Regions from separate parts of the Homo sapiens genome. Here regions 2 and 3 are each linked to region 1. The links come from fine-mapping of genetic effects on gene expression. Tissue or cell type: whole blood. Region 1 holds a variant in brackets; each other region holds the start of a gene. Each region is shown on its reference strand, or each on the opposite one.

Region 1 (10,175 bases):
ATCACACCACTGTATTCCAGCCTGGGTAAAAGGGCTAGACTCCGTCTCAAAAAAATAAAATAAAATAAAATAAAATAATAAAATAAAATAAAGTGAGAAATGGTGTGGTGTGGCTGGGGAATGCTGCCCCAACAACCACACAGCCTAGTTCCTGAGGGGTGGCAGTTCTCAGACTGCAGCTCTCCCTGAACAGGTGCCATAGCTGGTACACCTGGCTGTATGTATCTGCTGTATCAGTGAACCACTAAAATACCAACTCCAGATAATTTTTCCTTAAACTGCCCTCTTACTAGGGTTTTATTTAAAATTTGTTCAAGATTGGAAACTTTATGATTTCAAATAATAACATCTGTAAAAAAAGGTTTCATGTAGTAGCTCATTTTCTCCCCTAATGCATATGAAAAGAAATGCATAGGAATTAAAATTTTTTATTTAAATATTTAAATCTCTCTTGGCACACCAGGATTTGTGTGTGCTCTGAGGTGAGACCTGCTGGTGTTAGGCCACTAGCCTGGCCTCACTCTTCCCTTCCTGTGTGCCCCAGGGCAACCGGAGTGAGCCCCTGTCACTCCCGTGCTCCCACCTCCCACCCACCAGGTGGACTCAGCCTTTGTTTAACACACCAGGCTCAGGATAGGTCAAACACTAGGTAAGAGGGAGTTGCCATAATCACCCCCAGTTTGTGGGCGGGCAAACAGGCAGAGCGGTGGCCAGCAGTGAAAGGCAGACCCACGGTGGGGTTGGTCCTCTGGCCGCAGCTCAGCTCTGGCAATGCGCAGACCCCCGCCAGCCCATCCCATCTCAGGCTGTTTTCAGGATCCCAGGCCCTTGCACAAACTACAATCTCCACCCACAGGCCCTACCCAGGACACCTCCCCAACACACTCATCACCTCCTGCAGGCTGCACCATGACTTGTCCCAGCTGATCCCTCACTAGTGGTCACTTCAGACCTACAACTTCCCCCATGTGACGACCAACATGCCAGTGCAACATGGCTGAAAATGCACTGGGGAGGAAAAAGGGAAAAAATCCAAAAATACCATAGTAAAAAGGCATGAAGAGGCCGGGCATGGTGGCTCACACCTGTAATCCCAACACTTTGTGGGGCCAAGGCAGGCGGATCACCTGAGGTTAGGAGTTCAAGCTCAGCCTGGCCAACAGGGCGAAACCCTGTGTCCACTAAAAATACAAAAATTAGCCGGGCATGGTGGTGTGCACCTGTAATCCCAGCTACTCAGGAGGCTGAGCAGAATTGCTTGAACTCGGGAGGTGGAGGTTGCAGTGAGCCAAGCAAGATCGCACCACTGCACTCCAGCCTGGGCGACAGAGCGAGAATCCGTCTGAAAAGAAAAAAAAAAAAAAAAAGCATGAACAGCTGTGAAATAACTGCAGGGAGGGTGGAGACACCCGATATTAGAAGCCCTGTGAAAGAACCAGCCTTCCTTTCCTCCCCCAGGGCCATGACACGACACTGAGTTTAACCAGGTTAGAAGGCAGAGGCCTGGTGGGGGGGCGGTCCACAGGCCTGCAGCTCATCGTGAGAAACCCCCTTGGGGCTCAAATACCCCAAAATGAAGACCCAAGCAACAACCTCAGAAGCAGGAGCTTCTCTCTGAACTTTTGCCCCCTTCTCTCAGTCTCATCATCCCGAGGCTAGCCACAGAAACTAGAATCCCTCTTCCCCTAGGCGGGCCCTAGAAACCAGAGCCCCCTTTCCCCAAAGCCAGCCATAAAACCTAAAAACAGGACTCTCACTTTCCCTCTGCCGTATCTGTGTAAAAACTGGCCATAAAGTAATAATCTGATCCACCTTGTTTGACTATAGGTCATAAGACCCCCATTCCAGAGGGTCCTGCCCCACACCCAGAAGGTAGGCAGGCAGGCTGCTCAGAGAGACCAAGAAGAATCTAGACAGGCCTGGCTGCATTTCCCTGTTCAGTCAGCATAGGATCCTGCACTTTTTGCCAATCCCATTTCTACTCGGCTGGCCACACTTTGCTGAGCCTAAGCCTAACAATGGACAGCTTCCCATCTTTGGGTCTTCATTCTGAAGACGCCCATGTCTACATGCTAAATAAATTTGCGTGTCTTTTCTCCTGTTACTCTGCCTTTTGCAAGTTAATTTTTCAGTGAACCTTCAGAGGGCCAAGGAGAAAGGTCTCCCTTGGCCCCTGCAGCTTACCTTCCCATAATAAGGTAGCAGCCCCTGCAGGAAGGGCCACAAGGTCCTCCCTGGGGAAAAGACTGGCACTGGGCTGACAGAAAATGGTCATTTTGGTCCTGGCCCTCTCCTAGAATGAGGCCCACCACAACCAGCATCCATGGAGACAGGGAGGCAGGGAGCCAGGATGGGCCCAGGCCACACTGGGGTCAGTGGCAGATCTCTAGGTCTGCTCAGCCAGGTACCCTGGCCCTTGGGCTCTGGGCCAGCCTCTGCTGGGAGCCCCCAACTCTAGAGCTTCTTTCCTTGGTCACACCAGCTCCACTGGCTCCAGAAGGCCCCACCCTTCCCAAGCTGTACCCCAGGACACAGGCTCATGCTCCCACGGTGCCTTCAAGCTTTATTGCCACACACACTCCCCCAGCCCTTCCTGAATGGCCCTGTGCATGGGAACACCAGCTTAGAGAAGCAATTCAGGGCTAGGCAAGGGCCAGAGGACTGGATTTGGGACTGGGGTGGGTAGGGGGGATCTGGAGAAGGAAAGTGCTAAGACCAAAGCCCACCCCCACCCCAGGTTTCCCTGAGTGGTGTCCACCCCCAGGGTCTTGGGGGCTGGCTTGTGCATTGGGGGGAGGGGGCTCATCCCAAATGGATCCTCCCCTGGGGTCTCCAGGCTCATGGAGGGAAGAGAAGCCCCACTGAGCCCCTCGCACCCCCCATGAAGCCCTCAATGTGCAGGGAGCAGGAAGAAGAGCTGCACACAAACGCATACACATGCTTGTCTCCAAGAGAGCTCCTGGCCCCTGGGGCTGCCCAGCCAGGGGCTCAACAGTCCAGACCGATGGACACGAGCAGGTCCTCGAGTGCCCGCAGACGCTGCTGCGCCTCCTCTATGGCGCTGTAGGTCTGCACCGTGCTGGCCACGTGGAAGCGGATGTCGTCCACCAGCGGGATAGAGTCCGTCTCCTGCCGGGCTGCCACAGCCGCTGCCTCCTCCTTCACCGCCTCCACGAAGTCCTCCCGCTCCACCAGCTATGAGCGGGAAGGGCCAGCTCAGTGGAGGGGTGCCTGCCCTCTCACCCCTCCTTCCCACCCACTGCAGACCACTGGCCCACCTTCTCAATGACCTTGGCCATGTACTCAGTGCACTGGTCCTCAAGCCGCGCCAGGCGGAAGAGCTTGGCCACGCGCCACACACCCACCACAGTGTCCTCGTCTAGCATCTGAGCCAGGCTGCGGCCGCACAGCCTCTTCAGGCCTGGCAGCAGGTACATGTCGGCGACGCTCAGCACATCATAGGCTGCCTCGGGGGACAGCTGCAGTGAAGACAGGGATGAAGGTGCCCCCCGAGGTCACCAAGGGCTCCCAGGGCACAACAGCCAAGGCTAGGGCCTGTGGTGGTTGGGGGGCACTGGCGGGAAGGCTTCCAGTGGGAGTAGGAGCTCCCTGCGCATGTATGGGGTTGGGGGTCGGGGGGCTGGCCCAGATTCCCACAGGGATCTGCAGGACCGCTAGGGGGCAGAAGACTGGGGGGTTCTCCCATGCCCTGAGCAGGCTGGCAGGGCAGGCGGGAGGCAGGGCCCTCGCAGGAGCCAGGGTCTGAGCTCCGAGTTATACAGACCTGGGTCTGACACTTCTAGCTGTGGGGCCCTGGGCAAGTCACTGCACCTCCCTGTGCCTCTAGTTCCCAGTCCATGAGGTATAGATAACCATGCCTACCTGCGGGGGCTGTCAGAATGGTGGGACAGAGGCAGCTAGTCAAGACCTATGCAGGGACTCTGCCAGGGGTGGGAGACTATCTACCAGCTCCCTCCCTCTCAAGAGGCTGTGGGGACACAGAGCCCACCTACAGATACATCCTGTGCTGGATAAGACTGAAGCCCTCAGATTCAGGCCAGAGCCTGGGTGGCACAGGGAGCAAGCTGCAGACAGAGACAAGGGGAGCTCTGCGACCACATTACAAGCCATGTGCCATGTGCCATGCCACCTCCTTTACCTGGGTAACCCATGCATCTGCACAAGGCCTTAGGAAGTGACGACGAGAGCTATCCCCATGTTCTAGAGGCACAGAGCAGTTAAGTAACTGGCCCAAGATCACAAAGCTCACCCAGTGTCACACAGCTCAACCAGTATCAACCCAGGTTAAGAGCCCAAGCCACACTCTGAGACAAGGTGCCCTTTGGGTGGCGAGGCTCCTTGAAGAGGGAGCTTCTCCAGGGTGGGCAAAGGTAACCCCTGCTACAGGGGCCAGAGAGCTGGGCTGAGCTGCAGGAGATGCCCAGTAGAGGGGGTGGGAAAGATGGAGGCTGAGGGGCTGTCAGGCCGCGCGGAGGGATGGACAAGGGAGCTGCCACTGGAGATAGAGCAGCAGTAGGGACTGCCCTCTGTCTCCCAGCATGCTTCCTCCCCTTCCCCCACAAAACAGGGCCCTGGCCACAGAATGACTTTCCAAGCCTCCCTTGTTGGCAGGTAGGCACGAAGTTCTCTCCAGGGGAACATGAGAAGTGGTGCAATTTCCGGTGGCTTCTACAAAAACAGCATTGCTTGCCCTGCCTTCCTCTTCCTCCTAGAGCATGAGTTTGCCTAGGAC[C/G]CAATCTCCATGGCCAAACGCGATGCCCCAGGCAGGATGGGTAAGCTACGGCCTGTGGACCAAATCCAGCCTGTTTGTGCAAGTAAAGTTTTATTGGAATGCAGCCTCACCCACTCATCTCTGTACTGTCTCTGGCTACCTTTGCGCTACAGAGTTGAGTAGCTACAACAGGGCCATATGGCCCACAGAACCTGAAACACTCACCTTCAGAGAAAAGGTTTTTGACCTTCACCCTTAGGCATACAGGGGCAAGATGGAGGGATGACCTGATCTTCCGCAAGCCACTTGCCCTGGGGCACCCACCTCAGTCAGAAGTGAAGGAGAAACAAACTCCCCTCTTCTTTAAGCCACCAGATATGGGGATTGCTTTATAGTGCGCGCGCACGCGCACGCACACACACACTCTCTCTCTCTCTCACACACCCTGGCAGAGCAAACCTTCAGCACTCTGCTGCTGCCCTGCAGCCTTGGCTTACGGACACCTTGGGGCAGCTGGAGACAGAGGCAGGCAGCAAGGGAAGAGGAGACTGGGAACCCAGAACCCCAGGGATCTGCAGCACCACAGAGAGGAGGCTGTCCCCACCCACCCTCCACCCTCCTGCTAGAGAAGCTGAGGATCCCAAGTGGCTGACAAGTGTGGAGTGTCTGTGACACAGGCTCATCACTCATCCTCTCTCTGGAGCCCAACAAGGCTTCCTCTACCTGAAAGAAAAATCCAAAGTCCCACAGCCTTCCCCTCCAGCCTTCTCAAAACGTCAACCATGGGGCCAGCTGGGCCCTTCCACAGACCCCCAGGGCCCTGGCGCTCCCTCTCAGCCCACGGCAGCACAGGTTGTGTGCCATCCCCAGCTCTGCCTGAGCCCCCACCTCAGTGTGGTCGCTGTACATGTAGTAGAGCACGTGAGTGAAGACGTCGGGTGAGATGCCATGCAGGGTGACGGCTGGGGGGCCCCCTGAGGTCGCTGGCTCCTCGCTCTCTCGGAAGTGGTCATCCAGCAGGGCTCGGAAGTAGTCACTGCGGCCACAGAAAAAGGCCTGGGGGAGGCCGGGCTCAGGAAGTGTGAGGGCCAGGGTCTGTCTCCTGAGGAGCTAGACGGGGGCTCAGGGCAACGGGCTGGGGCCAGGGGCAACAGGAGGGCACAGGCACCTTGTGGCAGAGGAAGCTGCAGCCAGCCACTCGGAAGCAGATGTCAGGGCAGCTGTTGAAGCCGTCAGGACAAGGGAAGGGCAGCTCCCAAAGATCACCCTGGGGTACAGAAGAGGTGACCCCATCAGAGCAGTTGTTCACAGAAGTGAACGACTAGGTTCAGAAAAGGGAAGTAACTGGTCCAGGACCACACAAGGAATTGAGCCCAAGTATCTGGGCTGCCTGTCACGGCCTGCCATCCCAAAACGCCCTTCCTGCCCACCAGCCCCGCACTTACTCGGAGCTCGGGGGGCAGGGCACAATCGGCCAGCAGCGCCATGTCCTCCCGGAGGCGGGGGTCTGCAGGTGGGGGCTCGATGGTCAGCACCTTCACACACGTGCCTGGCTTAGACGCCACTACAGGGGAAGAACAACTTCAGGGAGCCAGGCCAGCCCTGCCAGGCCGCACCCATGGCCCCGGGCCCCAAACCCTGCTCGCACCAAACTCAGACACCTTCTCGCACTTGGCCTCCAGGTCGCTGAGCAGGTCCCACAGCTGGCATTGCTTGGCCAGGCGCTCACAGTCACTCACATGCTCTACGCCAATGTCCAGGCGGCCTGGGGGCAGTGGGGAGGATGAGGGCCTGCGGGACCTCAGCTGTCATCAGGCCCACAGAAAAAGGGTGATCCCCTCCCACCTGGCCACCTGGCTGCAGGACTAGGACTCCTGGGCCCACTTGCCACCATGGTTTCCCCATCAAAAGCTGTTCTACAGGCCCCAGGGAACAGATGGGAGGGCCTCAGCATGTGGGTGGGACAAGCTCTTCCTGAGCAGGCACACTAGTCCTCTCTCTTGCAACCCAACCCGAGAGGCAGCTGGAACCACCCCGGGGGGACCATGAAGTGTCTAGAGGTGAAAGGTCAGCCCAGCCACACCTAGGTGTACTGCTGTCCAGAAGGACGGCCCACTCCCTCTCCTCCTACCCTGGACCCAGGGGGTCACCTGTGTACAGGTACTGCAGCAGGGCCCCAAAGGCCACGGGGTTGATCTGTGGGCAGAAAACCAGAAAGTAATGTCAGAGGCAGCCACCCAGCACAACCTCCTGCTGTTCCTGGACAGTTCATGCCCCTCTGCCACCCTGAAGGGACATACCAGTGGGTGCCTGAGAACCACGACACTCTTGCCCTTCCATTTGGTGTCCAGCATGTTGGCAAAGTAGGCACTACGTGCACCCAGGACGCAGCGATGCACCCGGAATGGCTTCCCGTGTACTACAAAGACCACGTCACTGTGGATGCCCTGCTCTAGAAGCCTGGGGAGGGACAAGCCAGGAGGGAGGATACTTGGCACAGCCCCACCCCATTCCTCGGAGCACTCAGAACCCAGTGCAGGCCACAGTCAGAGCAGACTCGCCACACCCACCAGGGCCACCGCACCCCATGCTGCACCCCTCGTGTGCCCTGGCTCACCGCTGCAAGAAGTCGTCATAGTAATCCCGCCTCCTGCAGGAAGCCGTGACCTGCTTGTAATCGCGTAGAGCCCGGCGGATGGGGTCACTCAGTGCCCCATAGAGGCAGCGCTCACCATCGAAGGTGTTGGCCTCGCAGCGGGCTCCTGGGGGAGGCAGGGCTCACCAGTTAGCAGGGAAGGGGCCTGGGGGAAATTCTAATCTCCCTGTCCCTCCTCCCCACCTTCCCACACATGGGGCTCCGAATCTCTGGCGATGCCTTCCCAAATTACCCTGGGCCCACTCTGACCCCAACACCCTCCCAGTCAAGGGCTAGGCGAATGGGCACGTCTGTGTGCACTCACACAGGCACATACTCACTCACACGGAAGACAGACAACACAGAACGGAGAGCTGACTTGGTGGCTGGGCTTGTCCCACACACTGGAGCACAGCAGTGAACGAGACACAGGTCCCTGTCCTGCTGAACTTATACTCTAGTGAGGCAGGACAATCAACCCACTACCTAACGATGGCAGGGACTATTAAGAAAAACAAGCCTGGGCGTGGCAGCTCACACCTATAATCCAGGCACTTTGCGAGACCAAGGTAGGTGGATCACTTGGGCTCAGGAGTTTGAGACCAACCTGGGCAACATAGTGAGACACCATCTCTGCAAAAAAAATACAAAAACTTGCCGGGCGTGGTGGTGCACGCCTGTAGTCTCAGCTATTTGAAGATTTGAAGGGGCTGAGGCAGGAGGATCACTTGAGCCTGGGAGGTTAAGGCTGCAGTGAACCGAGATCACACTACTACACTCCAGCCTGGGTGACAGAGCAAGACTCTGTCTCCAAAAAAAAAAAAAAAAAAAAGAAAAAACCAAAATAGGAAGAAGAATGGCACTGAATGAAGGGAAGTCATGAAAGGTCACTCTGTAATGGTGGCAGCATGCAGAGACCTGAATGAAGGGGGAGTGGGCCATGTGAACGTTTGCAGAACGGCAGTCCATGCAGGAGGAACTGCAGGTGCAAAGGCCCTGGGGCAGGAACAGGGGCATGCATAGCACAGTGGAGCCCCAGCGAGGCCAGTGTAGCAGCAAGCAAGCAGCAAGCAAGCAGGGAGAGCCGAAGGAATGAGGCCAGTGGGAGGGCAGACCCTGTGGAGCCTTGGGCATGGCCAGGCAGGCTCACTGTATCCTAGAGGCAATGGGAACTTGCTGGAGGATTTTTAGCCGATCAGATTCATTGTGAAAAGATCAACTTGGCTGCAATGGCAAGAGAGAGGCAGGCACCGTGTCCGGGGAGAAATGCTGATGACTGGGCCCAGGTCGTAGAAGTAGAGATGGGCAAGGTGGACAGAGAAAAGGTTTTAAAGTAGCAATAATAGTACTTGCTGATTCGACTGGGTGGTAAGAGAGGAATCGTGGTGCTTTGCAAATGTGTATCAAGGCCTTTGAATGCACGCACGCATGCATGCACCCACACGCACACATGCATGCACCCACGCACACCCGTGAGCCGGGCTCCCTGCTCTCACCATTGGCCAGAAGGTAGAGTACCAGCTCCTCGTGCCCACACAAGCAGGCATAGTACCTGAAGGGAGGAAGGAAGTACAGGAGGCAGTCCTCAGTGCTGAAGGGGTGCACCAACCCCCACCCTCCCCACCCCTCTCTCCAGCACTCACAAGGGGGTGCTGTCCCACTTGTCCCGCACATTCACCTCCACGTCTCGCTGCTCCAGCAGGTACCTGGGCAGGAAGGAGGTCAGAGCCTGGGTCAGGACGGGTTCATGGTCTGAGAAAGAAGGCCCGTGGAAAGGAACGGAGAGAAAACATCCCTTTTGGTATGGGGAAGCCTCCCCCAGGTGAGGGCAGGTGACAGGCAGACCAGAGCAGGAGAGGCACTCAAGGCAAAGTGCAGGCAAGGATGTGGAGGTGGGGTCGAACAGGCAGACACTGTGTGCTATCAGTGCTGGGGGACGATGGGCTACAGGGACAGAAGCCAGAGCCAGTGCCGAGGCTGGACCTTTGGCCTTTCAGCGTTTGGGAGAGGAGGTGATGGAGCCTTCACTCCCACCAGAGCTCTCTACTGCAGGAAGAAGCTGGCCCTGTTAGAAGCAGGGAGCCCGGGAAAAAGCTGCTGCAGGCCTCCTGATGGTGTGGAGGGCACACAATTCTAGGAGGCAGGAGTCGCGGGATACAGCAACTGATGGGATGCGGAAGGTGAGCGAGGGGAGTCGCCAATGCTAATGCAGCCCCACTGAGGCGGGGGCAGCCCAAAGGAGGCCTCCAGGCTGCACCTGGAAGTGCTGTGAACCCACTCAGCGTTGACACTATGCACTAACTCTTGAGTGGCACGGGATGTCAGGGAGCGGCCCAGGGAGGCTACGGGAGTACAGCAGCCCGGCGCCAGCCCAGGGGAGGTGGAAGCAGTCAGTCAGCACCAGGTCAAGGGGGAGGAAGGGCCAAGAAAAAAGGAGGTCAAACGGGATAGTGGAAGCCCAAGGAGGGGAAGGGCCCCAGAACCCAACTGGGCACCCCTTCCCTCCGCGTCCGGCCCATGGAGGGGGCATCTCAGCGCCAGATTCACTTTAGCTGCGTCAGGAGTTTCCGAATCCTCAGGGACCGGAGGCCGATTATGGGCTCTAGGTGTTCCCCGCGCCAGGTCCAGAGAGCACGAGAGAAAGGGGCCACGTCTGGAGTCCCAGGCCTATACCCGCGCCCTGCGCCCGGGGGGTCTGACGTCCGGGCCCTACCAGGGCGAACAGTGGCCCGCCTTCTCTCCGCCCACTTCTGCGCCTTCGGGCCTCCGCTGAGCAGTCCCTTCTTACAGGAAGCCCTCCGGGGGTCA
Region 2 (10,175 bases), not on the chromosome of region 1:
CCTTCCAAATTCTGAGAAAATGATTTCCAGTGTGGATTTCAAAGAATGGAGATCGTTTTCAGCTATAAAATGTCTCAAGAAATTTACGTTCCATAGAACGTTTCTCAAGAATCTACTAGAGGATATGCTCATTAAAACAAGGAAGTAGACAAAGAAAGTGGATGGCATGTGGTCCAGAAATAGGAGATTCAGCCTAGATGGAGAATAAAGGAGTCCCCAGAGTGATGAGGTAGGGAAGCTTCTAGAAGGCAGCTGGGCAGCAGGACCGAACAGAGGAAGGGCCTCTCCAAGGGGGAAACAAGGAATGGATTCATTTCTTGATGTTTTAAATTGAATTTTAGCTCTGTTGGAGAGTTTATACAGAATTAGTAATAAGTACGTAGAAACCTAGCATATCAAAAAAAGATACAAAAACATAATGCAAAATATTCCTAACTCAGTTATGAATATTTTGAGTTACTGTAAAAGCTGAGTATTGATTTAAATAAAAGGGTATTATAAACTGTTCTGGAGGATGATGGGAAGGTTAACATGTATATGTTGGACTGGGGGATGTGAGAGGGTCAAATATTTATCTCTCAAGTAGGAAGGAAAAAATATATGAACATATATATACATATACATAAATATATGTAGGTATCTGAACCCAATCAAGATACACCATAAGCATAACATCTAGAAATATGTAATAAAATAACAGAAGAATTAGCTAAAACTGTTCAAAATACTTGGTTCTAGGGAATGGGAATCAGAGGTGAAGGAGTGTGTCGGGAGACTGGTGTTTCATGAGAAGCCTTGAGGTAATATTTGACTTCTAAAACCAAATACATATATTACTTTGATTAATAAATTAAAGAAAACATATGTCCACACGCACAAAATGTACACAAATGTTAATTGCAGCATTTTTATAATATCAAATAGTAGGCAGCATCCAAATATCCATCAGCTGATGAGTAAATAAAATGTGATATATTCATACAGTGGAATAGCATTCTTCCATAAAAAGGAGTGAAGGTCAGGTGCAGTGGCTCATGTCTGTAATCCCAGCACTTTGGGAGGCCGAGGCAAGAGGATCACCTGAGCCCAGGAATTCGAGACCGGCCTGGCCAACATGACAAGACCCTGTCTCTATAGAAAAAAAAAAAATTTAAATATCCAGGTGTGATGGTGCGTGCCTGTAGACCCAGCTACTCAGGAAGCTGAGGCGGGAGGATGGCTTGAGCCTAGGAGTTCAAGGCCTCAGCAAGCTATAATCACACCACTGCACTTCAGCCTGGGCGACAGAGTGAGCCCCTATCTCAAAATAAATGAATAAATAATAAAATGAAGTAGTGACATGTTACAACATGGATGGACCTTGAAAACATGCTAAGTGAAAGAAGCTCGTCACAAAAGAGCATGTATTGTGTAATTCCCTTTATATGAAATGTCCCGAATAGGCAAATTTATAGAGAGAGAAAATAAACTAGTGGTTGGCTGTGGCTGGGAATTTGGGAGATGGGGGTGAATGGGGAGGAATCTCTAACAGGTACAGAGTTTCTTTTGGGGATGATGAAAATGTTCTGGAATTATATAGTGTAATTGTTGCACAACTCTGTTAAAATACAACAAACCACTGAATTGTATACTTTTTAAAGGTGAATTTTATGGTATGTAAATCATATTGCAATGAAGCCATTATTTTAAAAATTAAAGAAAAAAATTAACAATCATACCTAATTCATAGAGTTGTTGTGAGGAATAAATGAAATAATGGATGTTAGGGGTCTAGTCCAGAGCCTGACGTAAATATTAAGCGATTAGTTAACACGTACATAGGATATACTACGTGCCAGGCACTCTTCTAAGTTCTTTACATATATCAATTCACTTACCCCTTGCAACAACTGTCTAAAATAGACACTGTTCTTACCCCCATTTTATAGACTAGGAAACTGAGGCCAGTGCAAGTAACTAATTTGCCCAAGATCACACAGCTAGTACAACAGTAGAGCTGGAACTTGACCCCAGCCAGCTGGCCCAGCATCTTTACTCTTCACCACTTTGATGCTCCCTCTCTCTGCCTCCCAGGTCCCATGTCTGGGTTAGTGCTGTGTGCTCCTAGGGACGCTGCTTTTCGTCTGTTGTGCTTCCAAGTAGATAACTCTTCACTTGCCTTTTTTCCTTGTCTGTGTCTTCAACTACAGTGGACATTCTACAATGGCAAGGACTGTACCCATCTTAATTCATCTTCATTCCCTGCCCATGATATGTTGGGATGAGGGTGGGCTGCAGAGTGAAGCAAAGGTGTTTTTCTCTTCATACAAATCCCATGAGTGCATGGAGAGGAAGTGGGGAGAGCTGAAGATGCTAGCATTAAGATGCTAGAGAAACACGAGACAATTGATGGAGCAAGATATCTAAGGAAGTAGAATATTAAGAGTGAGATAGTGTTGAAACACTGACCTTGGGAAGAAAGAAGAATGCCGCTTCCATTAAGACTGAAAGAGAGGAGGAAGAGGTGGATATTGTGGAAGTAGAGAGGAAGCTCATACCAGACGACTTGGATCATCTCAGTCAAGAAGGGGCAACAGAAGAATCTTGGGCCAGGACAAAGCATAGGAGGGTGAAGTGGAAGGTTGAGGCAAGAGGAGAGAGTTTAGAATAAATACCCAACTTTTTGGGGTCTGTGATCTCTTTACTAATACAATGGACCCTTCTCCCAGAAAAAAAGTACATACACACAAAATTGTGCATTTAGTTTTAGGGGTCTATGGACTCCAGGTTGAGAATGCCTGTTCTCAAGACTTAGTAAAATTGAATAGAAGTATTTCTGAAAGTAATTTGAAGTCAAGCATCTTGACTTTTTAGCATTCCAAGTTTGTGTTTCTGTGACTTTCCTCAGCAATATTTAGAGGCCTGAGAGTAGCAGGTGATCTGATATCTGGGACTGAGGCCAGAGGCTTCAGGGCAGGAGAGGGTGGGATGAAGTCTGAGAGGGTGGTAGGGCTTAGAGGAAGGCAAAACCCAGGCCAGGAACAGGTGGCAGTGGAGGCTCATAGAGGGTGGGCTGAGAAAGGTCCACTCCGGCTTCAGGCCATAAGGGGGCGCACTGTCTGTACAGAACATAAAAACGTAAGAAAACCAAAAGTCAGTCTTCTGTTTACTAGTACTATGCTGCACAAGCAATTTAAAACACCAACAGCAAAAAAATACACTTCTCTGAAAAAGTCTTGGTCTAGGACCTAAACAATTGCCTGAAACTGGGTAGACTTACACCAATGAGAGGCAGATAAAGAGATTAAGATTGAGGGAGTAGGGCAGGGCTTGCAATGGTGCCGGCCAGGATGTGGCTGAGGGGGTGTGGGTGCCTGCCGTGGATGCTAGGGTAGAAGACGACTCTATTAACTGGGTGGCTGTAAGCAGTACCCAGGTCAATGCCTTTCATCTTCTACAACCTCGACGTTGCCTGGAATCCTAAATCTTTTTCTTCACTTAACAAACATCACCTCTGCTCAAATCTGCAACTGCTTTGATATCACACTGCCTTTTTCACCCCTCTATTATAGATGGCATTTATTTACTTACATGTTTTTTCCCCACTAGACTATACTCCTTGAGAACAGCGATTGTGTCTTATTTATTTCTGAATCACCAATTCAGACAGGCATGCAAACACTTGCTGAACCAATGCACAAATATATTTTGCTCTTCTTCATAGATTCCTCCGGCCTCAGATGACCAGGCACCACTAGATACAGAACACTGTGCTTTCCTTCTCCAAGGTAAAGGAATAAATATCTGTTCCCCTTCATGAAGTGTTACTGTTGGGCCTTTATGCCATCCTGAAGCCACCAGGATGTGGAACCAGATCAGGGAGGTCCACAGTTACAACCCCTTGTATCTGTAACACCAGCAGGACATTATCTACAGAGTCCTGCTGCAGGGCCCCGAATGAAGACAGCATTTTGCTGCTTTGTAGCGTGAGCAGTGCTGTAACAGTGATGCATGGATGTTCCTCTGGTGTCCTGAAAGAATGTAGGTGCTTCTTGAAAGCTCTCTGCAACTTATTAATTGGGAGTGATTATGCGATGGAGAAAACAGAGTCCCATCACCCCCTCAGTCTTCCCTGGGAAATCACAAGAGGGCTGATAGCTCTCTGTGAGGTGAACCGTTTCTAGAATCCCCACCGTCTCGTCCTGTTCTTCCGCCCACCCAGTTCCTCAAGATAGCCCCTGTGGGCTTCTGATGAAGTCACCACACCACTGGCTAATGAAGTAGATAAACCAGAACAGTTTGGTTTAACATTTAAGGTCAGAAACAGGAACTTTCTAGAGGAGAAATCAAAAAAGCAAAAGAAGTATAAGGGCAGCCCTCCAACCAGTCAGAATACCGTGACCACCTGAGAGGCCCGTGGCCCAGCGGACACGGACGCATGTCAACTCTGGAGCAGATATCTTCAGCGCAGCATCTGACCTGGGAGTACAGCCACATACCCTCATTCCTAAACGGCAGATTGACTACTGGAGTCACACACAGTCTCCGGGCAATGTGGAGACATGTCTAATATTTAGTCAACATAACTCAGGGTGCCACAGTCTTCACAACTGTTGTGAGCACTTGAGGATGCTCCATTTGAAGATAGGAATTTGCCCTCAAGCATCTGGGGTTTGGGTACAGAACAGAGCTTCCCCTGCCACCACCTGCTAATTTTATAAAATGTGCATTCAAAAAAAAATCCTGCCTGTAAGAAGGAATTAAGCTACCCATTTAAATATAACAGCTGCCTGTGCAATCTACTGCTGCTCTTTATAGGAAACGCTTAAATAATTGAGATACTTAATTGGGTTAAAGAGATCCCTAGCACATAGATGTTCTATAAATAAAAGAATGAGTAAATAATCTAGTAACCTTCCTTTTCATGTCCTTCACTTAAAGAGATCGTTCTGTTTTGTTTGCACCAATAAGATCACTGTTAGAGGACTCCAGAGAGGTTTGATTTCAGGTGGGGTGGGGCTTTCCCAAGGAAGTCCCTTTTCATTTGTTTCAGGTGTACTGCCACCTTTTTCCCTGGCTCTTTCACTAAAAATGAAAAATTTGTTGATCTTTGCTGTAAGTAGGTAGGCATCTGGGCTTTGCTTTTGCAACTAGAGTCAAAGAAGTCAAGTTATCAGGCTGATCTTGCCTTGCTATCTAGAATCAGAAAGGTTTAAGTAGCCCAGGGACTACTCAAAGACAGCTGGAGGAGAAAGGGAGAGAGAAAAATGCTTATAAAGAGGTGGGCAAAAGAGCGGGACCTTGTCTCAAAAAAAAAAAAAAAAAAGAGGAAGTGGTAGGAGGTGTCTGAATTTCACTGTGACCTGTTCTGTCAGGTGATTTTTGGTGGGGCGGGGACATGAAAAAAAAGTTAAAATGTCCTTATAAAGACAAAATCTTTTTCTTTCCTGGCTGATGATTTGTCATTCTAGTCACTTCCTGCCTTGTGACCACACACCCAGGCTTGACAAAGCTGTTCTGCAGATCAGAAAGAAGGGGTTCCTGGTCATACACCAGTACTACCAAGGACAGCTTTTTTCCTGCAAGGTAAATGTTCTTCATGTGTTTTTGTTGGTTTTAAGCGCTTGTGATGCACTTCGGCACTGTTTCTGTGGATTGTGGGTTTTGCCTTCAGGGGACCAGAGATCTGAGCATGTCACCTGAGACCTCTGTGATTCCTGCCACTGTCTAACTGGCCAGGACATCTGCCGCCACCTCGCGTGGCCATCCAAGATGGAGCACCTCGGCTCTCTGGGCTGGGTTCTTCTCAACTTATCTGCAGTTATCACCCCTGCCCAAAATTAAGGTTTCTTTTTCCTTTTAAAACCAAACCATGTTCTGGTTTATTTCTATTGCTCTATTTCACGGAGGCTATTTACTGTGATTTTATCTTCTTTAAAATGTTTTCAGGAAAAGCGCGTATTGATAATTTAGATTGTATGGCTTATTGGCCCAATGGGGGTAGTTTAATTTTAGTTCCTGCGGTTCTGTTTTTCTAAAAAACTTCTTTACAGTACTTTAGTGGATAAATTATCTAGAGTCATATGTTACTGAATGTGATACTGGTTATTTGAGTGATTTTTGGCGCCAAGGGTTTTTAATGGGTGTGCTTTATAACCACATGGAATTAGAGGTTTTCTCTTTTCCATTTGTTCTCTAAAAATAAAAGCAATTTGTATAATGCTTAATTGTAGTGTTTTTGTAGGATTGTCTGAATTATTTGTTATGCTTATGACCATATCAATGAATATTCACTCAAATTCTGGGAGAAAGGCTTTTATCTACAATAGAAATTTTTACACAGTTGATATGGGATATTTATTTCAGAAACTGCCCAAACATAGACACTTTGGATTTTGTAGTATAAGCTTTTACTTAATTACCACTATCACATAACACTAAGAACCATTGACAAATGATAACTATAAAAGCCATTCAGACTGGAAATGCGAACATTAATCAGGATGTTTATCAAAACCGAACTTTTCTTTTACACAGCAACTTGTTTTCTAAAATTACTCTGTCAGAACTATCAGTAAGCAAATAAAGGTGGCTTATCCACACACATCTTGATTTTGAATTTACATACATTTGTCATAAGTTTGGTTTCTATTAAGTATAATTGTTTAAAGAATGTCTGTGTAGACAAATTTGAATAGAATTAATCATTTACCTATAAATGTGAATTTCTGGAAACTGCAAAATGTGACCACCAATGTTACTTTGCACATCTCACCTGAATAGTTTCAAACAAGCAAAAATGTGAAACTGAGATAAGAGGGACTTGAACCCCGTAAAAGAACAGACTAAAAATATGTTGTGTCTTATTTTAAGTAAAACTATTAATGAGAATAAAATAAATTCGAATGTGAAGGAATGTCAGTATTTTTCTTATATTTACGAAGGAATAAAAAAGAACTATGCGAAAGTTAATTCAAAATATAAAGGTCCCCTGTTTAAAGTTAAGTTTACATTGCTAAAGCATCAACCCCATATGTTACAAAGATATTCCTCTTCATTCTAGCTCACCCCCAGGAACATCAGGGGAAAAATCTTCTAGGTCTTGCCCTTTGAACAAGCACTGCTGTGGTGGGATGGAGTTGTGCCTAGGAGGACATTTCCTTAGCAATCCCAGAGACCCTTTTCTTTGTAGCATTTAAATTTTTGTCTCTTTTGTAAATTATGCCTTGAAACAATTGGTAATTTGGGAAACAATTTCAGTGCTTTAACTTCATTTATAATTCTATCTCTGAACCCTTTGGGGAAGGGAAGACCAACAAGTAAAGTCTCATTTACTTGTTGTTAAAGTACCATTTAACTTGGAGAGGACAGGAAATTAATAATAGCACTCAATAATTATGAGCACGTAGTGTAAGCAGCTACTCTTTATGCATTACCTCGTTTAATCCTCTCAGCTACCTTTAGAGATAAGGAATGGGCTAGATAATTGAAGGAACCGGCCATAGGTCACTGGGCAGTTGGGGTGGGGGGCAGTAGATGGCCAGGATTTCAGGCTCCTACTGACTGTGTGTGTTACAGATCCTCCCTTCCAGGCCAGCATATTTTTCTCAGAGGTAGGTGATTATAGACTTTTATTACTGAAGCTAGCTAACAAGATCTTGGCACTCACAGTTTTAAGAGAGAATAAAAGAGAGAGAGCAAGAGAAAGAAGAGAGAGAGAGAGAGAAGAAAAACTTTGTAATAAATTTACAAACATTTTTATTTTTATAAATAAGAGATACCATTGCAGGTTTTATATAATAATGGGCTGAAGAACTATTTTTAAATTAATGCATAATTTTACTAAAGAATTGTGTGCCTTTACAAACTTGCCTCGACCCACTTCCCCAATCTTATTTCTTGTCACTTCCTTCTGTTCAACCTCCCACTACCCCATCCCCTCCCCCGCCACTGCTAACCCACATTTTGGTGCACCAGACCACAAGCCACCAGAAAGTTCCATTCTCTTTCACCTTTTTTCACTGCAACTGTTTCTTTAATTGCATTCTTCTTTATTTTTAAAACTTCTGATCATTTTTCAAGGCGGACTTCAAGAAACATACCCTTTTGGAGGCCTTCCCATCTTCTCCCTGCCCCCACTAAATGTTTCTTTGGTGTGCATTTGCTCAATGCTTTGATCTTGGAGTAAGTATAACATTAATCACATTGTCTTAGTTTCAAGTACTTATTTGCTGACAGACCTGAGCTCCTTCTCCATCTTTCCTGGCACATGTAGATACTAAAGGCATTTATTGAATTGAAAATTTGTCACAAGTATTTTTTTTCTCAGCTTCTTACATACGCATGAAAGACTTTGATTGTACTTATTAACTTAATATTTACTGAGTTTCCATTTATTGCTATGAATGAAGATGCAACAATAATATAATATTTTGCATTCTACCATGTTTCAGCTTTACCGAAGCCCTAGTCTCATTTTAGCTTCAAAGTATCATATAGACATTGACCTCAAGAAATTTAAAAAATTGTACAATGACTAACAAACAGGGAAAATTACAATCTCATTTTTTTAGTATAAATACATTGGTTGGGCCAAAACTTAGCTACCCTTGCCAAAACTATATACCCAATAATGGGCCTCTTTGATGACAAAGAACACAAGGGCAGTTGTTAACTTTTACTTAGTCACTTTGGATTATTCTCAGAAAATTCTCAAGTCAACTTCTCCTTGTTACCTAAAGAGTACAGGCCCTTCTGTGTATACAGGAGAGATGGCAAGCAACTTTTAAAATCAGCTTAGGTAAAATAAAATTAAGAAATCTGCTTATAAGGTTATACTTATGAAGAGTCAAACACTTATAAAATAAGATTATAAAGGCTTGGACTTTATTACTAATAGTAGATTTTATAGTAGAGTGACATTATTTCAGTTAATCTAATTTTCTTCCTAGTGTTTTTTTATCTGCTAGTTTCCCAACTTACAGATATCAAATGAAATGATACTATTTCATCTGTATACTGAACACTGCAGAAATAAACATTAGAATTAGGACACATCAAAATATAAAACTAATCAGTGTCCACAGATTTGAAGAGTTTCAAGTGTTCCTATTTTGCCAGATGGAAGCGCACTCCTTAAAAAAGTGTTAATGTTCTACAGGGTCTTCATTTTGAGGCTCTCGGAAGTCACCTCCTGATTAGATGTTGGTTTCCTAGGGATATCTCCCTATAGCTGCTGTGGCCGTGGTGTTCCCCAGATGGCATCTCCTTGTTGCTTTCCTCAGTTCCCTTCTGATCCAACTTCCTGCCTTATACTATTGACTGTTCCTGTTGTTTTGGTTTGTCAGTTTCAATGCTTACATCAGTCTGCCCAGAAATTGCATAACTGCTCCATCTTGTAAGATATCGGTGGGGGATGGGGGGGAGTGGAAGGCGCTTCAATTAATCATCCTAATAATAACGTTAATACTTACATTGAATCAGGTGTTTTTCTAAGTGCTTTAACCCTATGAAAGCATTTAGTTGTCATACAGTCCTGTGAGGTAGTGTCTGGTGTCCTCTTCATATTTGAAGGCAAGTTCATTCATTCACGTATTTTATTTAATTTTCTACAATTGGATCAATTTTGTCTTAACTGTTGAATTTCAAGGCAACTTCCTGGAATAAACAGGTAGCAAACCATGGTGCTTATTTGTAACTAAGCCCTCAAGTTGAGCTCAAATAATCATAATACTTCCCCAAATAAATGCATCTATATGATAAGTGCTTTTATAAACAAATTATTCTGTGTCATCATATCATCATCATCATCATTATCATCACCATCAGCAGCAGCAGCAGCAGCAACAGCATCAGTAGTCAGCCCCTCTGTACACTTGACTGAGTAGAAGTTGGTTGTTAACAATTACAGGCCTCTGCATGGGTCACAAAACATGATCTCCACCCTCAAAAACTTTAAAAGGTTCTTAGTCTTTTGTTTGTTTGTTTGTTTGTTTTTTGAGACAGAGTTTCACTCTGTCGCCCAGGCTGGAGTGCAGTGGCGCGATCTCGGCTCACTGAAACCTCTGCCTCCTGGCTCACCCAGGCTGGAGTACAGTTGCGTGATCTCGGCTTACTGAAACCTCCGCCTCCTGGGTTCAAGCGATTCTCCTGCCTCAGCCTCCCGAGTAGCTGGGACTACAGGCGCCCACCACCAC
Region 3 (10,175 bases), not on the chromosome of region 1:
AACATGGTGAAACCCTGTCTCTACTAAAATACAAAAATTAGCCGGGCGTGGTGGCGCGTGCCTGTAATCCCAGCTACTCCCTTGAACGAGGGAGTTGGAGGTTGCAGTGAGCTGAGATCGTGCCACTGCACTCCAGCCTAGCGACAGAGGGAGACTCCATCTCAAAAACAAAACAAAACAAAACAAAACAAAACAAAACAAAACAAAACTTTAAAATGGTCAGGCATGGTGGCTCAGACCTGTAATCTCAGCACTTTGGGAGGCTGAGGCAGGAGAATTGCTTGAGCTCAGGAGTTGGAGACCAGTGTGGGCAACACAGCAAGAGCCCATCTCAATTAAAAAGAAATAAAAGCTTTACACTGATTCACTTGGTTATCCCTCAGCATTCTCCAGTCACATTGTTCTGAAGGTTTATTGCCTTCAATGGCCAACAGGATACTATAGTTAACAAGAATCTGGCATATACTGCAAACCTTTGGCTCTAAAGCACGTGGCATTTTAACTTTAACCGGGACTAGTAAGTTCAAAGCCTGACAGATTTTTTTAAATGGATGAAAGTAGATGGGCATAGTGGGATCCCAGCACTTTGGGAGGCTGAGGTGGGTGGATCACTTGAGGTCAGGAGTTCGAGACCAGCCTGGCTAACCTGGCGAAACCCCGTCTTTACTAAAAATACAAAAATTAGCCAGGCATGGTCACATACGCCTGTAATCCCAGCTACTCGGGAGGCTGAGGCAGGAGAATCACTTGAACCCAGGAGGTAGAGGTTGTAGTAAGTCGAGATGGTGCCACTGCATTCTAGCTTAGGCAACAGAGCGAGACTGTCTAAAAATAAATAAATAAATAAAATAAAATGGATGAAAGTATATGCCAACAGTTGGTTGAGATTACCCTCTTTAACTGTAGACAAGGACCACCCCTTGTAGGTGGAGGAGAGGAAAGTGAATAGGTTGAGAAGAGAGTAGAAAATAACAGCACACAGGAAATTCTTACCAAAATATTTCTGGATTCTTTGAAAATATATAAACTAATAAATAGAGTTATATACTTATGCAAAATTCTGAATCCCCAAAATAAACTTTTAAACAAACTCCATAGGAAGCACAACTTCTTCCAAAATTTGAACAAAATTTTTAAAACTACAGATTTTATTTGATTACTCGAGTGTTAAACACATGGTGCTTTTTAAAGGGGGACTTGTACTTAATGGCTAGAGCATTACTGAAGTGCATCTAGTTTACTGAAACTGAGTTATTAATAAAAAGCAGCCCTTTCAAAAATGATCAGTTCCGAGACTGCCAGCCACCTCCATTGATGGGTAAACATTTACGTTTTTAATTAAAGCACTGTAAGAACACACTGATACCTTGTGTCAAAACTATTTTCCATGTGATTATGGAAAACAATGGATAACTCTGGAATCACTGATAAAGGTCAAATTTCACCATTTAAAAATACACTCTAATAAAAAAAAACTAAGCCAAATTACGGCGTATCTGAGATAACCAGGAAAAATTCTTGGGTTCAAAAACACTCCTCATGTCAGGTCACTCTAGCCACTGTCTTATAAAACAACTGGGTGGCAAGTCCTGAACTTCCTCTTTCACGTGAGTGCCAAAGCTTGCTTTACTCATTGAACAAAACACACTTTTAAGAAGTTCTAGATTTCAATTCTAAATAATTAGTAATTGACTTCAAAAATCAGTAGGAAAGAAACTTCCATCTTCCCATATTCCAGCAGTTCTATGGATAATTTCAAAAACAATTGATATTCACAATTTCATTTTCATTTTTGTTGTTTTAATAAGCAACTAGAGAAACGTGAATAAGATCTGCATTTTCAGTTCCCAAGAAGTTTCCTATGTGGCAAAATCTTATCTTTTATTGTCCAAGGAAAAGTACTTCCCTAGACTCTACAAGCAAAAAGCACAGCATTTCAACCTGTAAGAACAAGAATAAACTGTTATCCAAGGGTTATGTAAACCAGCAGTAATCTCTCCCTATCCTTTACCTCAGTTCAAAATTCTGACCATACATGGCTGAGGATATAAAGCCGATTCAAACCATGGGGTCAAGCTGCTTTCTCCATTATGATTGCTTGTTCCTCAGAAAAGGAGCTATTCCAAATGAGTCATGAAGGAAATGATCACACTGAAAGAAAACTGCCTGCTCTTGCCTCACACGTTTGGCTGGTGCTACCTCTAGGTTTAATCATGGTCTCTCAGAAATCCTTACACCACTGAATATATTACACTAACTCACTATCAGTCAGGTGTATGGACAACTGTGATAATCCCGTCTCTAACCATGGAAAGCAAACCAACCCATTAACAGAAGGATTTGTAGCCTTTATTTTTTTTTTTTTGGCATAGTACTGATTATTAAAGAGAAGATACTAGAAAGAATCCATTTCTTGGCTTAAGATTCTTAACTACTATTATTTTTCTTTCCTAATCACCTTTTGGGACCAAGCCACTTCAACATCTCATTTTCTTATCCCCACTAGTGAACATCCCCTACAACCTTCCTGTGAAACTAAGGAAAAAAACAAAGTGTTAAGGTATTAAGCCTCAATAAGTAACTTGGACAATTCCTCTCAAATCATTAGTGGACAATAATAAAAGCAAAAATGGATGATGCTTTTCCAGAAAAATTAACTGAAAGGCCTCAAAATTCTTCTAAACAAAATTAAAAAAATATTGTAACAAAATGCAACACAGCTTAATTGGTTTTACACCATTGCATATTACAAGTCAGTATTAACATCTTTCTTAAAGTGCCTTCATACCCATGCACAAAACTACTGGCTACCACCTTCAGGTAATGCTAAGGTGGGAGGACAAGCAAAACCTACCAGGTAATTACCAGGTTGATCCTTCAAGTGCCATTTTTATTCAAGGGCATGGCACAAGTAATGCTGCTCACATCCTGTGGTTCCACTAACGATACTAAAGAGGTAAACCAAGTACAGAAGACGCAGCAAGAACAAGTGATTTTTAGGTTTAAGTGGGAAATTCCTGGTCTGTATTAAGCCACAGAGGATATCCAAATAGATACTTGCAAGGAGTTATTCATGAGGGTGAGGGAGGGATAAGGATTCTAAACTAGTGACGAAAAGGTCAATGCTTTTAATTTACTGGCAGGAAAGGTATAGTTGAAGGGATCTAATAGAACAAATTTCCTAGCCAACTATATTTTAAGGGCAAAGAAGGGGGGAAACGGGCAGCAACATTGATGGACTATTTGCATGTACCAGAAACTATGCATAGGACTTTAATATGTGATTTAACTGACCATGAACCAAATCTCCAGTGAGATTCACAGCTTTTAAGAACTACGGTATAAGATAATCGATAAGGCTAACATGGAAAAGTTGTAGCATATTAATATTTTGGTATTATATATTCCTCTATCACTAAAGAGGTAGGTTTTAACCTCAATCATTCCTCTTTGCCATTACAAATAGAGATGACAAATTAGAGTATCAAACAAACCACTGTATTTAATTTACATGTCAAGTATGAGATCCTATCACTTATGCCAAGTCAGGTACTTTAATGTGTTTATAAAATCATTACTATGAAAAGTAAAAGAAATGGATAATGTCCAGCATTTTGACTTATAGAAAACTTGCCCTGAATCTGCAACTTCTGAAGGGAAAATACTGTCACCATTGCTAATCTCACTTGAAGCTTCCACAGATTTTTTTGTTCCAAAAGGGAAGAAAAGTGAAATTAAATTTTGAATAAAGTTCATAAAGAAATGTAAAACATTTCTATTTTTCTTTTCAGTTCCCTCAACCCAAACAGAAACAGCTTCCTGCAATGGCTTAAGTCCATGTGTACATTACTGAATCATGACGGCCACAATGTAATTTTATAGGGTTATAATCACAACAGAAAACTTACATTCAGCAGTTTGTGTCACCTACAATATAATCTAAAAGACAGAAAGAAGTATTTACCAAATTACCTGCTACTGCTGTTATTCTTTTTGGATTTGTTCCTCCGTTTTAAGGCATCTCTGTCCTTGTTATTGTATGGTAACATGGAGGCATAACCATGTTCAGCTTCTAGAAAACAGGAGGATCCAGTTAATGAATGGGCCCAGAATATTTAATGCTCTCTCCTCTCTACAGTATTTCCTTTTTCCTTTATTTATCTTTAAAAGAATATTGTGGAAATAATTAAATGGAGTAAGGTGGAATTCTGAGAACAATGATTTAAAAAAAAATTGTGTGAATATCGTCAATTCGGAGCAGGTGTAAGGAGGATTCCAGCTGCTCATTGTTGAGAAAGACACAGTAGTGGCTAGGCTCACGCAGCCTGGGTTTCCCACTGGCTACATCCAGCAGGTTGGTGCGGGTTAAGTGGAACCAGCTCAGGCGAAGGTGCGGGGCAAGCACCGTGAGCCGGGGACCGGGAGGCGCTGCTCCTCTGCCCAGGAGACTGGGGCGCCGGGCCCACCTGGGGGCCGGCCGGGACCAGCCCGGGTGAGGTAAACCAGGGAGGCTATCGGAGGGGGCCCCGGCCACCCACTCGTGAAGGGCTGGGGAAGGGGCGGCGTTCGGGACCCCGGCGGGCGGCAGCCCCTTCTCCACCCCATTCATTGCTTTGGGGCAGCGGCGGCTTCCCTTCGGACCGCGCGTGGGGAGAGCCAGAGGGGTTGGGAGCGCTCGCGGTCTCCCCGCCTCCAACCACCCCCGGAGCGGCTGGGCGCCCGGACCTGAGGCCGGCCCCACAGGACCCCCGGCCTCGTTTCGAGTGGACCCCTCCCCGTCCCCGTGCACCTCTCTCCCGCCGCTCCAGATAGTCGGCCGCCTCCAGCAGCATCTGGATGTTCATCCGAACCGCCGCCGCCATTCTGCACCGGGGGCCGGAGCCACGGGACCAACCCCCACTGCCCACGGGCTCGCTGCCGCCGCCGGACCGCTGTGGAGCCCGCTATGGAGCCCGCTGTGGAGCCCGCTGTGGACCCCGCGGAGCAGGGCTGAGGGAGCCTCTCTGGCAACCACGCTCGACAAGAGAGGGAGGGGGCCAGTGAGCTGGGCACCGCCGACACAGTGACAGAACCCGGAGCAGAGCAGCAGCCGCCACCGCCGCGGAGTGTTTATCCCCGACTCACCATCTCCCCGCCCCCAGCCCCTTCTCTTGACAGGCCAGCTTCGGCCGCGTTCCTCATTGGGCCCCCCAAAGAATGCCCCGCCCCTACACTTGTGCGATTGGGAGAGGGCTTCAGGGCTCCACCCCGCAAAGTCCGCTCCTCTCGCTGGTTGGTCACACTTGACAAGGCCCGGGCTCCACCCCCTCTTTCCAACTGGTGACAGGATTCGCAACTCCGCCTCGTGCTCCTTCCTTGTTTCCCATTGGTTCTATACCAACAACCCGGGCCCCCTTTTGCTTTGTTAGTATTGGCCAAGAGCTGCAGAAGGCAAGCACCTCGCCGGTCTCCCATTGGTGAAGCCTTCGGAAACCTCCCAGCTACGATGATGTCACCTTTCTCCAGGCCAGGCGAGCCCTAAGTGGCTGATGGTCAGCAGCCTGGCTGCTCCTCACCGGGTCTGGCATTGGCTGGGAGGGCCGGTCCGGCGCTGGGCGGCGCTGATTCACCAGCCGCTGCGGAGCTCTGCTCCACCCGGCCTTGCCTCGGACCTGTTGCCAAGACCTGTCCCCGGGGAAAACTTCCGGGGACCTGCCAGGCGTCCATCGAATGGAAGGCTGGCACCTCGTGTCGCCTGGGCGCTCTGCCCCGCTTGGGTTCGGGGCCGGAGCCCTCGGTCTGGTGGCCGCGGCCCTGGAGGTTCTGGGCTTCGCGGAACTCGGGCTGGCGAGGGCCCAGCCTCGAATCCTCCCGAAGAGCGGTGCAGGCTAGTGGCCGGTGAGCCGGGAGCTAGGGCAGGCGCCACGTGGCTGCTGCGGGGCTTGAGAAGAAAAGCCGGCCGTTGTTAAATGCTCGCCGCTCGGCGTTTTTTCTGCCCTCAAGAAAGAGCTGGAATCGGGCTGCAGTATACAGCATTGAGCTCATGCGCCTTTTCCGCACCCCCCTCCACCCCCGGGAAGTGATGGAATAATTAATTACTTTCACGCGAGCGGCTTTTTAAAGCTCAGAGACTTCCTGAACCTACAGAATGGCATTAAACCCTAAGATTCTTTGCTTAAATCTCTTTTGGGGTTTTCCCCTCCCTTTTAATTCTAGATGAAAACACTCACAAGATTATTGTTTTTGTTTGTTTGTTTTGAAAGGGAGTTTTGCTCTTGTCGCCCAGGCTGGAGTGCAATGGCGCGATCTCGGCTCACTGCAACCTCCTTCTCCCGGGTTCAAGCGATTCTCCTGCCTCAACCTTCTGAGTAGCTGGGATTACAGGTGCCCACCACCACGCCCGGCTAATTTTTGTATTTTTAGTAGAGACGGGGTTTCACCATGTTGGCCAGGCTGGTCTCGAACTCTTGACCTCAGGTGATCCACCCACCTCAGCCTCCCAAAGTGCTGGGATTACAGGCGTGAGCCACCGCACCCGGCCAAGAATACTCTTTAAGACGTCTGCAAATTGTGTGTTTCCGCATGGGGTGGTACCAATATAAATGCTTAATAGAATGTTACGTATACAGAACTAAAAAGGTTAAAGATCGGTCCCTAAACCTATTAAAATTTTTGAAATGAAAGCTATCTGGCAAACCAAGCTACACTGCCAATGTACTGACAGACATCTCCAATTTTAAAAGTAGAAATAAAGTTCTTGGTAGGTTGAGTCCCCAAAATACAAATGAGTAAAGCATGAACATATTTCTTTTTTTAAAAGTTTATTATTGTTGCCAATATATAATAGCTTACTATGTGTAGGTATCCTACCTACATTATCTCTAATCCTCAATATAACCCCATGAGGTAGGTTGTGTTAATTACATTTTGCACGTGAAGAAACTGAGGCCCAGGGAGGCTAAATGATTTTCCCTGTCATGCATTCAGCTGCAGACATGGAAACTGAACCTATGTATGTCTCACCCAGAGCCCAAATTACCAATCCTCCTGTTGGTAGTTGTATAAAGACAAGGTGGTTTAAACAGATTTCCAGACTGAGTCACAAAACACTGACAACTCAAGTACTGAAGAAAAAGAAAGACAAAGGTGTAAATGTAATTATGGTGGGAAATATTAAACATGTATTTTTTAATGTCCACAAACCCACTAAAATTAAATCAACTCAATAAATAGAATAAACATGTAGTAAATCATGCCTGACATATAGGCATATTCTGGTTTCAGTGGTTAACTGGATCTAAAAACTGATTCTTTATGAAAATACTAATGAAATACACATACTGAAGGTAAAGGTTTTCAAAGCACAATACAAAGTTGGAAATGAAGGTAGAAATATAACAGTTTTTTTTCTCCATATCAGACAGGTAATGTACTAACGCTGTAACAAGCTCTTTGGGAGGCACATCTCATACATGCAATGGGAACACCTAATTACTATGTTTATGAACTATAAAAGGATCTAAGTTTTAAAAGAGTATTTTTAAATTGGATGTTATTTGTAAAACAAACTTCAAAATCATAAACGAGTGCAATTCTACTAAAGTACCCAAAGTGATAATACTAAAAATGCTTTGATTTCATTATCCTGACATTTTGGATTTTGTATATATTTATATTTTCTCTTTAATTTTATTACAAACATTTGGCATATGTCTTTAGTCTCTTACTCTCAACTCTTTATTTTAACCAAGTCCTATTTCAGTATCATGACCCTTCCTCTACAATCACCCTGACCAGAAAGTCACACTTATTTTTGTCTTAAAAAGGGGGAAAAAAGGTTGAAATCTGAGCCAGAAACAGCAAATAATTTAAATGCCAACAAGTCTAGCTTAGACTCCAAACAAAAATACTACATTATATAAAAATTAGAGAATCAGCTGAAGAATAGACCATGTTCGTTCCTTGGTGGTGGATGAAATTATCAATTAGCCAGCAACACCAACTAGGGATTAGTATAATGAAGACCTTCAAAGGGTGTTTGGTGCCATCTACTGGAAATGAAGTAGTAAGTATAAAACAAAGGTTTTGAGATTCGGAGTTTTCCTAGAAATTATTTTACACAGATGTATGGAATGACCAGTTAATTAAGAAAACCTGAAAGTATAAGTTTTGAAGAAAGAACTGAGAATCCTAAGATAATGAAGAAGTGGTGACTTTCAATACCTAGTGCCTCAAAGGCATGGCCTAAGCATTGACTGACTGAGAGTCACAGCTCCAGAAATAGAAGCTGGGAATTCTAGAATGTTTGAACCAGAATTTTATGACCAGAACTTTAAATAAAAAGTTATGTGTAATAGCATAAACATGGGATGACAATAGTTTATATCTTTGAGCACATATCAAGATAAACTAATTGAGATATATACTTGAAAATGGGGAATTACAAAGACATAAAATATTAGACTTGTCAGATAATCTTTACTGCCAAGTTAATCTCTGCCCAGTCTCCTCTGGGAGGCTTATACTCCAGATGGGCATAGGACAGTATATTAAGAGGTAAATGCCAATACTGAGCAAGCAGCAGGCTCATCACACACTATGGAGTTCTCTGCCGGAGATGCCGCTTCAGAGAGCACCCCAGAGTGGCAGGGAAGAAAACTGTTACCGTATTATAATCCTGAAGTGCCTAAAAAGTTCTATCACTATGGGAATTAAAGCCCCCTATTTATAACTGAGTTTGATACCTCCTAACTACTATGACATTAAAATATATTTTGTCTTATAAGGTTTTGAGGAATTGATTTTGTTCCTCGAAGCAGATAAATCAGGATTTCAAGTTTCTGGTTCAACAGTATCATCTCTTTCTTTGTGGCTATTTTGGACACACTAATATGATACCTAACATCATAATATTAAATTTTAAAAACCTTTAAAAACACTGTTTTGCAAAAATTAGTCACTCTACAAATCTGTGATTTAGAAAATGAGGCAACAGCCAGGGGCCGTGGCTCATGCCTGTAATCTCAACACTTTGGGAGGCTGAAATGGGAGGATCACTTGAGCTCAGGAGTTTGAGACCAGACTGGGCAACATAGTGAGAACTCACCTCTACTCAAAAAATAAATTAGCTGGGTGTGGTGGTGCAGCCTGTAGTCCCAGCTACTTGGGAGGCTGAAGCAAGAGGACTGCTTGAGCCCAGGAAGTTGATGCTCCAGTGAGCATAATTGCACCACACAGCACTCCAGCCAGAGCAGGTAAACAAACAAACAAACAAAAAGGCAATGGCTAAATTGTCATATGTATATCACACAAAACACTATGCAGCAGCTTTTTAAAAGGTAGATTTATATATACTGTCAAGAAAAGATCCCTAAGGCACAGTGTTGAGTAAATAGATTGTAAAATAACCCTTACAGCATTTTCTTTTTAAAGGCCCAAACTATGTATTTTCCCAATTTCCTACTCTGCTATATACATACAGGCATGGACAAAAGATACAAAGCAAAGGATTAGCAGAAAGAATGGGCAATATCATTCTGAGTACTGTTCGAAAGGAGTTTAGCTTTGTCACGATGTTTTAAGACTGTTACAAGAAAGACGCTTGCCACAAATGATATTTCCTAAAAGAAAAAAATGTAATATTTAACTTTTCTTCTGTTGAGGCAAGATAAGTCAACTGCATATATCATAAATAAGATTTTCTTACTTTACAAGAAGGAAGAACTGAGATCCTGTTTTTTGAATGCAAGTTAAATACAAAATAAAGTACTTGGGTAACTAAAGGTAATCAGATGTAAAATGAAGATCAAGGGACTAGGTTAGTGAAAAAAGGTTACAGAACTATATTCACAAATTCAAGACATGGGTTGAGCGTTGCACTCTGTGCCAGCCACTGTGTGGTGCTGGGGCTGCAGAGCTAACCAAAGAGATCCCCCACTTCTCCGAGCTCACTGTCTAATAGAAGAACCAGACGTAATAAAAGAATATAGGGTATGTCAGGCAGTGATAAATGCGGTGAAGACAAGTAAAGGAGGGCTTGGAGAGCCACACGGAGAAACTGGAACCCTCATATATTGTGGATGGGACTGTAAAATAGTGCAGCAGCTTTGAAAGACAGTTTGACAGTGCTTTATGTTTAAGTTAAACATAGTTTCCATGACTTGGTAATTCCACTCCTAAGCATACTCCCAAGAGAA

Evidence for each region. PIP is the estimated chance that this variant, and not a neighbour inherited with it, causes the effect.
Region 2: LCP1 starts here. The variant in region 1 is the best candidate, but not a certain one, in a credible set for the expression of LCP1 in whole blood (TOPMed, PIP 0.65).
Region 3: MXD1 starts here. The variant in region 1 is the best candidate, but not a certain one, in a credible set for the expression of MXD1 in whole blood (TOPMed, PIP 0.85).

The regions. Positions count from the first base shown.
Region 1 is chr3:127,673,289-127,683,463 of GRCh38, reverse strand. It overlaps ABTB1 (ankyrin repeat and BTB domain containing 1), which reads right to left. Exons shown (of 12, transcript NM_172027.3): 2 at 9,011-9,073; 3 at 8,864-8,919; 4 at 7,350-7,494; 5 at 7,033-7,192; 6 at 6,883-6,928; 7 at 6,381-6,497; 8 at 6,178-6,296; 9 at 5,901-5,999; 10 at 5,621-5,788; 11 at 3,279-3,479; 12 at 2,538-3,195. The coding sequence ends at 2,989. Among named protein-coding and RNA genes, the nearest start is that of ABTB1, 5.4 kb to the right of the region's middle. RefSeq lists an enhancer at 168-703 and a silencer at 10,141-10,175. The variant C/G (reference allele first, on the strand shown) is at 4,754.
Region 2 is chr13:46,177,501-46,187,675 of GRCh38, reverse strand. It overlaps LCP1 (lymphocyte cytosolic protein 1), which reads left to right and starts at 5,499. Exons shown (of 16, transcript NM_002298.5): 1 at 5,499-5,565. RefSeq lists an enhancer at 5,407-5,836.
Region 3 is chr2:69,910,018-69,920,192 of GRCh38, reverse strand. It overlaps MXD1 (MAX dimerization protein 1), which reads right to left and starts at 5,084. Exons shown (of 6, transcript NM_002357.4): 1 at 4,790-5,084; 2 at 3,973-4,072. The coding sequence starts at 4,862. It overlaps LOC124906176 (small nucleolar RNA U13), which reads right to left and starts at 7,498; the gene lies at 7,394-7,498. RefSeq lists a silencer at 4,481-4,710 and enhancers at 5,361-5,560, 5,661-5,770, 5,253-5,858, 5,871-5,920.